Regions from separate parts of the Homo sapiens genome. Here regions 2 and 3 are each reported to be linked to region 1. Evidence: microRNA targets listed by miRTarBase, many of them from high-throughput screens and not tested one by one. Region 1 holds a microRNA gene; each other region holds the end of a gene's coding sequence.
The links. Region 1 holds the annotated microRNA hsa-miR-3165 (AGGUGGAUGCAAUGUGACCUCA, at 2,357-2,378, opposite strand). A microRNA usually pairs through its seed, bases 2 to 8, with sites in the 3' UTR of a target mRNA and lowers its output. Matches are read on the target gene's strand: a 7mer-m8 pairs with bases 2 to 8, a 7mer-A1 pairs with bases 2 to 7 and ends in A, and an 8mer does both.

Region 1 (4,149 bases):
GGAAGGGGCAAAGGGACAGGAATGATTATTCATTCCCCTAACCCACCCACTCTTAGTGAGCTCAGCCTCACATTATCCTGGGCAACCCCAGCGTTCTGTGGATCAGACAGCAAGCAGAAGGGAAGCCATGCAGGCCAGGTCAACGGGGTGAGTCAGTGGCAGAGCAGGAAGAGTCACTGGGGCAGAAATTCTGGCCTTCTGTGGCAAGACTGCCAAGCCACACCCACACTTGGTCAGCACTGTGAAGGCCCTGCCCTGTTAGGATTTCAGTCTTTAAGCCAGAAAACTTCTTCCTCAGGAGGCCCCACACCACTCTCATTTTCAAGTGTCTCTCCTCCTGCTCAAAAATCTTCCAGTTTTCTTCTCCCTAAAGCATCATATCTAAATTCTTTGGCTTAACTTTCCAAATCCTCCATTATATGGCCTCAAGTCATTTATTCAACCTTATTTCCCACTATTCTACAGAATATACTCTGAATTGATCAAGCCAGTCTTCCCACTTCTCTCTGCGTGAGCCAAGCCTTTTCTCATTTCCCTGCTTTCAATTATCCAGGAGTGGTAAATTCAAACATCTTCAGGGGTCAGGCAGGTAACAGAAACAAATTATCCAGGCAAGGCCCAGTGGCTCACAGCGGTAATCCCAGCACTTTGGGAAGCCAAGGTGGGCAGATCGCTTGAGCTCAGGAGTTCCAGACCAACCTGGGCAACATAGTAAAACTCCGTCTCTACAAAAATACAAAAAATTAGCTAGGTGTGGTGGAGTGTGCCTGGGTCCCACCCACTTGGGAGGCTGCAGTGAGCTGAGACCGTGCCACTGGACTCCAGCCTGGGCAACAGAGCGAAACCACGTATCCAAACAAAACAAAATGAATGATCCAGTGGGGCACATGGCAGATCTAGGAAACGCTGCACCCCCCTAAAGGCATTCAAATATTTTAATTCAAATATTTATGTAGTGTCTCACTGTGAGCATCACGATAACCTTTTAAATAGTTATTAATACTCTATCTTGCAAATGAGAAAACTTCCCCAAGGTTAGGTAACTGGCAAAATGCTGGGCACAGTCTCTAGACCTGTCTGATGCCAAAGCAAGAGCTCTACACCATTAGGCTTCTAGCAGTGCAAACACCATGGAAGATACAGAACCCTCAAAGTCACTTTTCATGATACACAACCTTAATAGTAGGATGGGAAGCCCAAATCACAGCTTATCTAACCATATCCCAACTGCCTCCAATTCTGTTCATTTTCCAAACCCCATCTTTCTGCCAAAGTATTTCATTCCTAGTTATCCAAGTCCTACTGAATTCCTTCTTCTGTAAATTCCTATAGGGTTTATAGATTAGACAACACAAATAAGTGCTAAATTATATACTGTCTTGCAAAATCAGATACTGCTTCTATGTATTTTAGTGTCAGCCTCATCAATCAAACTATTGTATTAATCTATATAGTTCTTCTACCAAAAATGCCTAACCTGAATCTAATCAAGAAGAATCAGACAAATGCTATGAAAGACAAAAAGGCATTCAGATTAAAAAAGAACTGTTCAAAGTTAAAGCAGACTAAAGACATGATAGTCATGACAACTAAGTGCATAAATACATGCATGATCCTTCAATGAATCCTGAATTTTAAAAAACTCAATAAAAGACATCACTGGGAAAAGATGAGAAATCTGAACAAGTATTATATACTGGATGTATTGAATCAATGTTAAGTTTCCTGAGTGTTAATAGTACTGTAGTTATATAGGAAGATACCTTTTTCTTAGGAAATACTTGCTGAAATAGGGATTAAATAACATGATATTTACATCTAACAGTCAAAAAGATTCAGAAAATGAAGGATAAATAGACAGCAAATTTGGCAAAATGTTAATAGTGACTCTAAATGAGAAGTATATAAGTATTTGTTACATTATTTTGCAAAATATCTATAGGTTTGAAAATTTTCAAAATAAAATAATTTAGTAAGGAGGGAAATCCTGTATTATATACTTTTTTATATACTCAGCTCTGTGACAGATATAATAGGCACTCATTACTTTAGGTATCTGCTCACTACCTAAGGAAACTGGGCATTTGGAGGTCAGCAATCAGACAGAGTCCACTTTGCTGCAGCTCATGAGGGGTATAGTAGGAAATTCTTAGGGAATAAGAGGTTTCTCCAAAACTCACATTGTCACACCACAGGAAATCTAGAAAAGCAGGCAATTACCTCACTCCTCATTGAGGCCATCACAGAAGTACAGGCACTGAACAAATGCCCACTCGCTAGGCAGAATGCAGCTGCTGCCCACACGTTAGTACCCAGTGGTAAGGTGGATACAATGTGACCTCAGAGGACCAAGAGTTGAGGTCACATTGCATCCACCTTGCCACCGGGTACCAAAAATTTGACAATCTGCAAAACAAGTGTCTCTGGCCAGTCACAGGAAGGCACTCAAGTATCAAATAAACATGCCTGAAATATATGCAGTCTTTCCTCCTCACCAGATAAACCAGTCCTCAGCTGCAATAAGGCAGAAGAAATCTGCAAGGCTGAATCACTGGTATTTCCTGTGCAGACTTCAAAGAAACTGGCCCTTCAATAGGACAGAAAGGGCAGGCGACACAGCTGCCAACAGAGGCCTCAACCCAGGAGCATGCTATGCAATAATGCCTTCTCTCCCTTCTACAGCCATCAGATACCTCATTTTTACTTCTGCCAAATGGCCCCTTATTACCGCGACTGATTACCTAATAGCCAACCCTTTACCTTGGTTCTCTCCTCCCCTCAATGAGACCCAAGATACTGGCCTTTCTAGACAGCTCCTCCTCCAATTTGCCAGAGGAATTGTCAAAACTATTCCCCTGGCCAGGCACGGTGGCTCACGCCTGTAATCCCAGCACTTTGGGAGGCCAAGGCGGGCGGATCACACTGTCAGGAGATAGAGACCACGGTGAAACCCCGTCTCTACTAAAGATACAAAAAATTAGCTGGGCGCGGTGGCGGGTGCCTGTAGTCCCAGCTACTCGGGAGGGGAGGCTGAGGCAGGAGAATGGCGTGAACCTGGGAGGCGGAGCTTGCAGTGAGCCGAGATCGCGCCACTGCACTCAAGCCTGGGTGACACAGAGCGAGACTCCGTCTCAAAAAAAAAAAAAAAAAAAAGCTGCCTAGGCCAGGCACAATGGCTTACACCCATAAACCTAGCACTTTGCGAGGCCGAGGCAGGAGGATTGCTTGAGCTCAGGTGTTCAAGACTAGCCTGAGCAACACAGCAAGACCTTGTCTCTACTAAAAATCAAAAAAATTAGCCGGGTGTAGTCCCAGCTACACTACTTAGGAGGCTGAGGTGGGAAGACAGCCACTGCACTCCAGCCTGGGTGACAGAGCGAGACCCTGTCTCAAAAAAAAAAAAAAAAAAGTTGCCCACAGTAGGAGGTAGAGGAGAGGCCATTATTAAGCACACTCTCAGTAAACCATGAATCTGACAGAGCTACCCAAAACATCAATGCAGTCTTAAGCTGCATTAGTAGAAGATGACTCTATGCCCCACCTTTGAAGAGCAAAGTTAGAGGACTTGCAGAGGAAGAACACCAATGACCATGGCAAAGGGTCTAGAAGTATATCATTTCAAATATGGAGGAAGAACTACACACTTTTAGCCAGGGGAGAACAAGAAAACTTTTTTCAAATATACGCATAGCTTTCACATAGATGAGGAGAAAGACTTATGAGTCCACTATAAGAATACAAAACCAGAACTAATGAGTGGAAGTTACAGGAAGACTGATTTTGGTTTGCCACAGGGAAGAAATTTCAGCATGTTGTAGAAGTTCAGAATGTGGGATGTAGAACCCAGAATGCTTGGATTAGGATGTCAACTCCACCACTTATAAACTGTGTGGCTTTGGGGAGATTAATCTACCTGTGCCTCAGTTGCCTTCCCTGTAAAAGAGAATAGTAATAATAGAACTTAGCTCACAGAGCTTTAAGAAGTAGCTTCCGAGGCTGGCTGCGGTGGATCAGGCCTGTAATCCCAGCACTTTGGGAGGCTGAGGCAGGTGGATCACCTGAGGTCAGGAGTTCAAGACCAGACTGGCCAACATGGGGAAACCCGTCTCTACTAAAAATACAAAAAAAATTAGCTAGGCTTGGTGGCGC
Region 2 (4,000 bases), not on the chromosome of region 1:
CGGGATGACTGGCAAGGTTAGCATATGGACTGCAGATCACGCTGCTGTGTGACGGTCGGGTCCCTTGACTTTAAGAGCTGTGCTGTGGAAACACAAGGGAACACTCTGCTCCTTGTTCTTGGGAAAAAACCAAAGCACTAAGGGACAGAGAAGTGGGATGCCGACAACGTATGAAATGCATTTCCAAATGGCTCTAGGAAAATTTAATTTTTTCACAGAATCAATACCTCGGCAAATGACTCTGTACCCTCCTGGTGTCTTCCCGTTCCTTGTTTTGTGTCATCCTCACAGCTGTCAAATGAAACGACTCAGGCGAAGAGCTCCAACCACGGCCCTCTCCGTGCTGAGCATTCGCTGCCTCCACTGCCACATGCACGGATTCTTAAAAAGCGACGAAAGGGCGGAACCCTGACTTCCTCCAAGAGGGGCAAGCCCAGGACTTCCAGGCACAGGCAGTGGGCGACCTCGATGTCTTTCCAGGTGCTCAGTTCTCCGCATTCTGCCCTGAGGGAGTAGGGGTGATCCGACTGGCATCACATATCTTGAGATATTCATTTGCATAAACACAGCGGCACCCAGATCTTGGCTTCTAATCCCACCCTCCAGTAAAAGGAACCAGGGGTCCTTGGAGAAATGGGTCTAGGACTGGAGCAGGGAACGCACAGATGAGCCTGGGTGTCCTGCAGTGCCAGAAAACCAGGCTGTGCCCAAAGAGGCAGCTGTGAACAGACCCCGGAGGCCGGCAGAAAGGGCTCCCTGTGGCCAACACTGGAAAAACCTGAGCAAGAAAGTAGGCTGGGCGCGGTGGCTCACGCCTGTAATCCCAGCACTTTGGGAGGCCAAGGCAGGTGGATCACCTGAGGTCAGGAGTTCAAGAACAGCCTGGCCAACATGGTGAAACCCCATCTCTACTAAATATACAAAAATTAGCTGGGCATGGTGGCAGGTGCCTGTAATCCCAGGTACTCAGGAGCCTGAGGCAGAAGAACTGCTTGAACCTGGGAAGCAGAGGTTGCAGTGAGCCGAGATCGTGCCACTGCACTCCAGCCTGAGCAACAAAGGGAGACTGTGTCTCAAAAAAAAAAAAAAAAGAAAGAAAAGAAAGAAAATGCATGGCGAAACATGGGTCACATCCCAGAGCTGAAATACAGCACAAGAGTCCATACAGATGTCAGTAAATGATGGGATAAATAAATAAATAGGGAGAGGAGACAATCTTTCTTCCAGAAGAATTGCAAATAACAGAGGTAGATGCTCCTGCTCCAAGAGGTGAACGTGATTCCATGCTCTTGCTTCTTTGAGGGTGGTCTGGGCTGAGACAGGCTCCCAAGGAATAGAAGGAGAAGAGGAAAAAGCAGGCATTTCATGGGAGACAGCAGGCAGACATCACCTGAGCAAGTGATGAAGGTTAGCGGATGTCGGGCACCCCACATGACTCCTCTTCCCAAAAGCACACATCCCCAGTCTCATCACACGAAGATCGTCTTCCCTGGACTGGGGACCTGGATTGGGGAACATCCTACAAGATAACCAGCAAAACTCCTCAAAGCCACTAAGGTCATGAAAGGCAAGGACAGACAGAAACCATCGCAGGACGGAGGGGCTGGGAGACGTGAACAGCAAATTCATCTGGTGTCCTCGATGGGTCCTGGGACAGAGAGAGGGCACTGGGGGAACCCAGCGAGGTCTGAAGGCCACCCGGAGGTGAGGCCATCGTCTCGCCCCACAGCAACGCGAGACGTGAACAACAGGAAGACTGTGGAGTCCACTGGGCTCTCTGCGCCGTTGTAAAGACACTTTACTGCATGTCTAAGACTATTTCATTCTTTTAAAAAAAAAGTCTTTTAAAAAATATTATAACTCAAAACTATGGAGGCAGTAAAATGCTCAGTGGTTGAAGGGAAGATTTTTAGGGCAGAGAAAAGACTGTGCATGATGCTACAATGGTGGACCTGAGTCCTGATCACCCGACCAAACCCACAGAGCCAACAGCACCAGGAGTGTGCCCAGGGTAAACTCCAGCCCCCGGCAATGCTGACGCTTCAGTGTGGGTGCAGCAGTTGTAACAAGCGCCAGAAGCGAGCCCAGGGTAAACTCCAGCCTGCGAGGATGGTGACGTGTCAGTGTGGGTGCAGCGGTTGTAACAAGCACATCCCTCTGGTGGGAGGTGTTGGTAGCGGGGGAAGCTGTGGTGGGGGTAGGGGTTGGAGTGGAGATCTCTACCTTCCTTTTAACTTTGCTGTGAACCTAAAACTGCTCAAAAAGGAGGTCTATTAAAAATAGTATATATGGCTTCAAGAAATTCACAACCATTTGAATTATTTCCCATGAACCACGATTGCTAAACAAAAATGACTGTTTAAACTGGAAAATAAACAAAATCTGTTTAACTAAATCAAGGTCAAACTGAGACTGTCTGCGCCTACCCTTGCCAAGCACGCTTTGGAAAACGCGGCTGCCACCACGCAATAAGAACAAACTCCGCTCAAGTTCATCTGCACGACAGAAAAGGGAGAAATAACAAAAATAAAATTCTTGCTGATACTCACTTTACTGCCATGGAAACCAGCTCAGCCAGCTTTATGTTACTGGGGACATATTTAATTCTCAGGATTTGTATTATTACCTTAGAAAAATATAACAAATTCTCGTAAAATTTGGATTGCCCTTAATGACACAGAAAGGTAAAACATTCTTAATTATCAAAGCTTTTTCTGTTATAAAGCAACAATAAAACTAAAATATTGAAATGGGATTTTTATGCCAGAAGAATTTCAGCCTCTTTCCAAACAAAGGAGGAAAAAGTTCAAAGAGAGGGTATGTTCCTCCTAAACACGTTTTTTAACTTCACCAAGAGGCCTTGTGTAGGCAGCCAAGTTTTTATTTTTCCTCCATGGCTACTGCAGTGATCATTCTGAATGAGTGCCTTCTTTCTTTTGAAATCCCTTCCTAATTCATTAGCACACTAAAAAAGAACAGAGCCATCTTTGCATTTCATTTTCCTCTACAGAGACTTTTAGATCCGTGGTATAATCACTAGGTGGCCTTTCTAAGCCTTGCACAAAACGCACACTTCTTAGGACTGGTGCCGTCTTGGGTGCCGCTGGGGGCCAGCAGCCCAGCCCCGTGGGTCGGAGGGGCTTTGGGGGTGTGATTCACCATGCCCTGCTCTCTGGAGGGTGAGTGCACTATCTGCACCCCACCAGCCGTGAAAGTGCATGATAACCCATAATTAAACAAGCCAGGGGGTGAGCAGGGGCAGGTAGGTGTGATTTGGTACAGGAAAACCACAACAAGGTGATTTTTAAACTTTTATTTGCCTAAAGCAAGAGAAAACAAGCTTAACCAGGTAACACATGCTTCAAAGCCTCGACAGCCAGGATTTCAGAGATGCTAGATCTCGCGGCCCCCCAAAGAGAAGCACGGTGGCTTCACACAGACCGCCACATGCTGCACACGTCCAGGTGCCACACCCATGTGCCCACACCCGTGAAAATTCTAGTGTGTTGTCTGCCAACCCACTCTCTGTCAGGCATCTGCCGTCTACCCTCGTGTAAATACACGTTGTTCAGTCTTGTGGAAAACATTAGCTTTCTCCCTTAGACGGGTATAAAATATTCATCACCAAATGCAAAAATCAAAAGCACAATGTGTGATCAACTATCAGCCCACACAGGACACCACTCGGATGCCAGCTGCTCATTTGGAACAAGCACACAGCATTCCTGTCTCTGCCAAGCATATTTTCCCATCTCCAGGCTAGGAAAACGCCTTCACTGGCCTGCCGCTGAGGCAGACGCGGGGATGAGCTTGGGCTTGGCTTGCTGGGGCGGGGCCATGTCCGGGATCTTCTCCCCGTGTTTGTACACGCTCACTGTCACGTCGATCTTCTCCCCGCCATACTTATTCTTGATGTTGATGCTGTACTTGCCCGAGTCCTCGGAGGTCACGCCTTTGATGGTCATGCTGACGTACTTGGCCTGCTCCACCTTCACCGAGA
Region 3 (4,000 bases), not on the chromosome of region 1:
ATGAAATGCAATGGAGTTCAGATATCTTAGAGAATCATAAAAATAGAAATGGAAGTTTTATTTTATTCTGGAGGGAAAGGGCTGTTTTGGGCACTTTTCATGGCTGGGGGAGCAGAATTGATTTACTTGTTAATCTTTTTGGCAATTGAGAAATCTTTTCTATTTTTGAGATGGAGTCTTGCTCTGTCACCCAGGCTGGAGTGCAGTGGCACAATCTCGGCTCACTGCAACCTCCGCCTCCTGGGTTCAAGTGATTCTCCCGCCTCAGCCTCTTGAGTAGCTGGGATTACAGGCAGCCACCACCATACCTGGCTAATTTTTGTATTTTTAGTAGAGATGGGGGGGTTTCACCAGGTTGGCCAGGCTGGTCTTGAACTCCCGACCTCAGGTGATCTGCCCACCTTGGCCTCCCAAGTGCTGGGATTACAGGCATGAGTGCCCAGGCGGCAATTGAGAAATCTTAACTTCGGATTCCTAGCTGTGAACTTCCTCTTTATCAGCAACTGACTCCATACTGGAACATTTTCAAAGGAGTGCTAATAAGATTCACCCATCAAATATGTGTTGTATTACAAGATCAATGACACCCTACAGCCTTTGTTCCCATGGGCAACTTTGCTGTAAGACACGTAGTTAAGAATCATACATACCCTCAGAAAGAATTTGACATGTATTTTCAAATGCAGTGAGTTAGGCAGAATGCAAAGCAGAGTAACAAGATTTTACCTACTGCTTACTTTTTCATTTTACATGTGTATTTAATATGTTCAATGCAGCAAGAATTGCTGATATTATTACTGTGAGATGACGTGTAAAAATAACACTAGGAACAGGTAGTATACATCAAGACCAACACGAATGCATTGATAAAGATGGAAAACACAAGAGAAAAACATTAAATAGTCTTATTACAAGAAAAAAGGATAAGGGTTAAATGATTCAAAATCTAAACAAAAATTAATATACAGATATACTGTCTTCCATTCAGTGCATGAAAGAATTATCTGGATATAAAAATCAAGTATCCTTACATTCTGGGTTTCTTGGATACAATTTTCTCCTCAAAAATAATTTTTCAACTATTTCAGGAAATTTTTAAATCTAAAATAACTCTTTTTAATCTGGGCTCCAAGAAGAAAAAAGAAATAAATACTTATAATCAATTGACTGCTCTGCCTTGAAAAAAAAAACGAATTTTACTTTTAGGTTAGAAATAATGGGGATCATGATGCAATTCATATTCTCGTATTACCCCCAAAATAAGGGTAGATAAAATCATATTCATCATTCTTTGTGATAAGAAATAATACCTTCTCAGAAGGCGAAGAAAAGAATTTCAAGATCGGTAACAATGGAGAAGAGTCAACAAAATATTTGAAAATTCTAGCATTATAAGATTAAGCTTAATAATCAAAGGACTGTCAATTTTTATATGATTGTCATAAAATATGAAAGTCAAAATTCTTCTTGGTAAAGTCAGGTGTCTGGACAAACTATCACCTTCATTCAGGTTACCCTGGCTTGAGGTAAAGACCTTTTCATCTGAATTTGCATGAAAGGTTTCTGCAGCTTGACAGCATGAGGCTGTTCTCCGGTGTGCACTCCTAGGCACCTGAATACTGTGTGTGATTAACTGAGGCTCATTTTATGATAGTTTAAATCTGCAACATAAATTTAATTCAGCTTTTTTTTCTCAACAGTTCTGCCTAGTATCCCTGTTTAGGCACAGGCAAAATCTTTATTTTTACAAGGACTAAATCATTATGAATTTGAGAGAAGTAAGTCATCAGGAACTAGTACATACAGTCATATGTTACTTAATGATAAGTATACATTCTGAGAAATGCATTGTCAGGCAATATTGTCCTTGTCTGAACATCATAGAGTGTACTTACACAAACCTAGATGGTATAGGCTCCTACACACCTAGGCTATATAATATAAACTATTGCTCCTAGGCTACAAACCTGTACAGCATGTTACTGTACTGAATACCAAAGGCAACTGTAATACAATGGTATTTGTGTATCTAAGCATAGAAAAGATATGCTAAAAATATGGTATTATAATCTTATAGGACCACTGCTGTATATGCAGTCTGTGGTTGATTGGAATGTCATTATGAGCTGCATGACTATATCCTGCCAAATTTTCACTTTAGAGACTATAAGCCTAAAGGAAAGAGAAGATTCCTCTTACCTGCAATTAAACAATGCTTTTCAAAGTCTCTAGAGTTTGGATTCATAGTTGGTATTTATCAATGGTTGTTTGTATCACAATTTTAACACAAAGGATCACCCAGTTATCTTTCAGAGTCTAAAATTAAAGTCTTCATATCTTTCTATTGTGATTTTGGTGTATGTATGTATAATTAAGCACAAAATCCCAAAAGATCTGGAAAGTGCCATAGAGCAAGGTGCTTTCCATAAGGGAATTAGATTAAAAAAAATTTACTTATTCTTTTTTGAACAGTCAGTTACACAATGTAGTTTTAGCCTGCTGAAGTCAATGGCTAGATAAAGCAAAGTTACTATCAATGATTTGCTCCTGAATAAAAGCCTTATATTCCAGGAACAGAGCAGAGGCTCCCTGGCCAGTGAGAACCAATACCAGTCAATTCTGCTGGTAGCAAGCAAGATACCTGGATAGAAAAGCAGCATTCCAGAGGCCTCAGGAGTGCTAATAACTCTCTTCTCCCTTGTGCTCAAAGTCTCCTTCTATGTATTTATTTCTAGTGTCTATAAGAATATGCTCACAAAAAGTCTGAATAAAAACCAGATACCATTTCACATTAGTATGTTATTAAAAATTTACCTCTAGTACTCCTGGTGAGAAGTGACAAATTCAAGCAAATGCTTTTGTTATCACTTTTGGGCTTCATCATGTTAAAGAGAAAAGATGTTGCTAAATATATGACAACCCCGGTCACTTTATTGCTATGGTCTAAATGATTTGGGCTATTTAATGATTTCTGTATCATCTAAGACAAACAAATCAAGAACTCCGTTTAAAGCAGTTATTGCAGAAATATACTGTGTGAGGCCCCAGTTAAGCTTTTACTGATTTGAAGTGTTTTTCTCAAATAAAAATTAAAAAAATACTTTTCACTGAAGGTAACTGAGAAATTGTTTGATTCAACATAAAGACGAAGACACATTTTCTTCTATTTTTTGAGACAGTACACTTTGTGATTCACAGGATAACTTGCATCAGACGCAATTTAATGAAAGCTCTCAAATAAGCGATTTTATTCCTATCCATGATTGCAGACATTTACAAAACCATAACATCTGAGTTCACCTTAAAAAATAACTTATATAAAGCAGTGATATACACAGCACAAAATAGTTCAGGGAGGGGGCAGGAGCAACTTGTAATAATTAAAATGTAAACGTGAAAAAAAGGATGGAATAAAAGTCCCTACTTATTTCTACTTAAGATGTCATGTGATAATATTTTACAATGTCCTGTGGGTCAATGTATGTATGTGTATATGTCTGTATAACATACACATATACAGTACATTCTCTTTCCCACACATATACATACACACATAATTATTTGCAGTTCAGTTTAGGGCAATTCTAATATGCCACTCCGTACAGTTGTTTGAATCACATTTGGACCCGCTTTCTTCACAAAAGAGGGGAGAGAGCAGGAAATAAAAAGGTTGGTTTGGTGTGACTGAGATTCCTTTGTTTAACTGTACACTGTGATGAATAATTTTCTTCCGTAGTAGTTCTGTGAAGGGCTGACTCACTGTGGTTTTCATGAGGAGACTTGGTAATGGATCACACGCTCATTGTCATGCTAGGGGAGTACTAGAAGGAAAGAAGAATCCATATTTTAACAACAATTCTTTTAGAGATCACTAAGGTTCTTCTTGGTACAACAGAAACGATGAATTCTAATTTCTTATCATCTTTTATGTGCAAGCTTTTCATCTCATACAACATAAAATAAGAAACTATAAAAAAAGTAAAATGATACAGACTTAACT

Region 2: miRTarBase lists MYOM2 as a target of hsa-miR-3165. The part of its 3' UTR that is shown has no 7-base or 8-base seed match.
Region 3: the mRNA of SSBP2 is a reported target of hsa-miR-3165. The part of its 3' UTR that is shown has no 7-base or 8-base seed match.

Annotation. Positions count from the first base shown.
Region 1 is chr11:72,069,916-72,074,064 of GRCh38, forward strand. It overlaps MIR3165 (microRNA 3165), which reads right to left and starts at 2,387; the gene lies at 2,313-2,387. The region is part of intron 1 of NUMA1 (nuclear mitotic apparatus protein 1); the gene reads right to left.
Region 2 is chr8:2,144,755-2,148,754 of GRCh38, reverse strand. It overlaps MYOM2 (myomesin 2), which reads right to left. Exons shown (of 37, transcript NM_003970.4): 37 at 3,299-4,000. The coding sequence ends at 3,774. Among named protein-coding and RNA genes, the nearest start is that of MIR7160, 70 kb to the right of the region's middle.
Region 3 is chr5:81,416,713-81,420,712 of GRCh38, forward strand. It overlaps SSBP2 (single stranded DNA binding protein 2), which reads right to left. Exons shown (of 17, transcript NM_001256732.3): 17 at 1-3,821. The coding sequence ends at 3,792. Among named protein-coding and RNA genes, the nearest start is that of ACOT12, 25 kb to the left of the region's middle.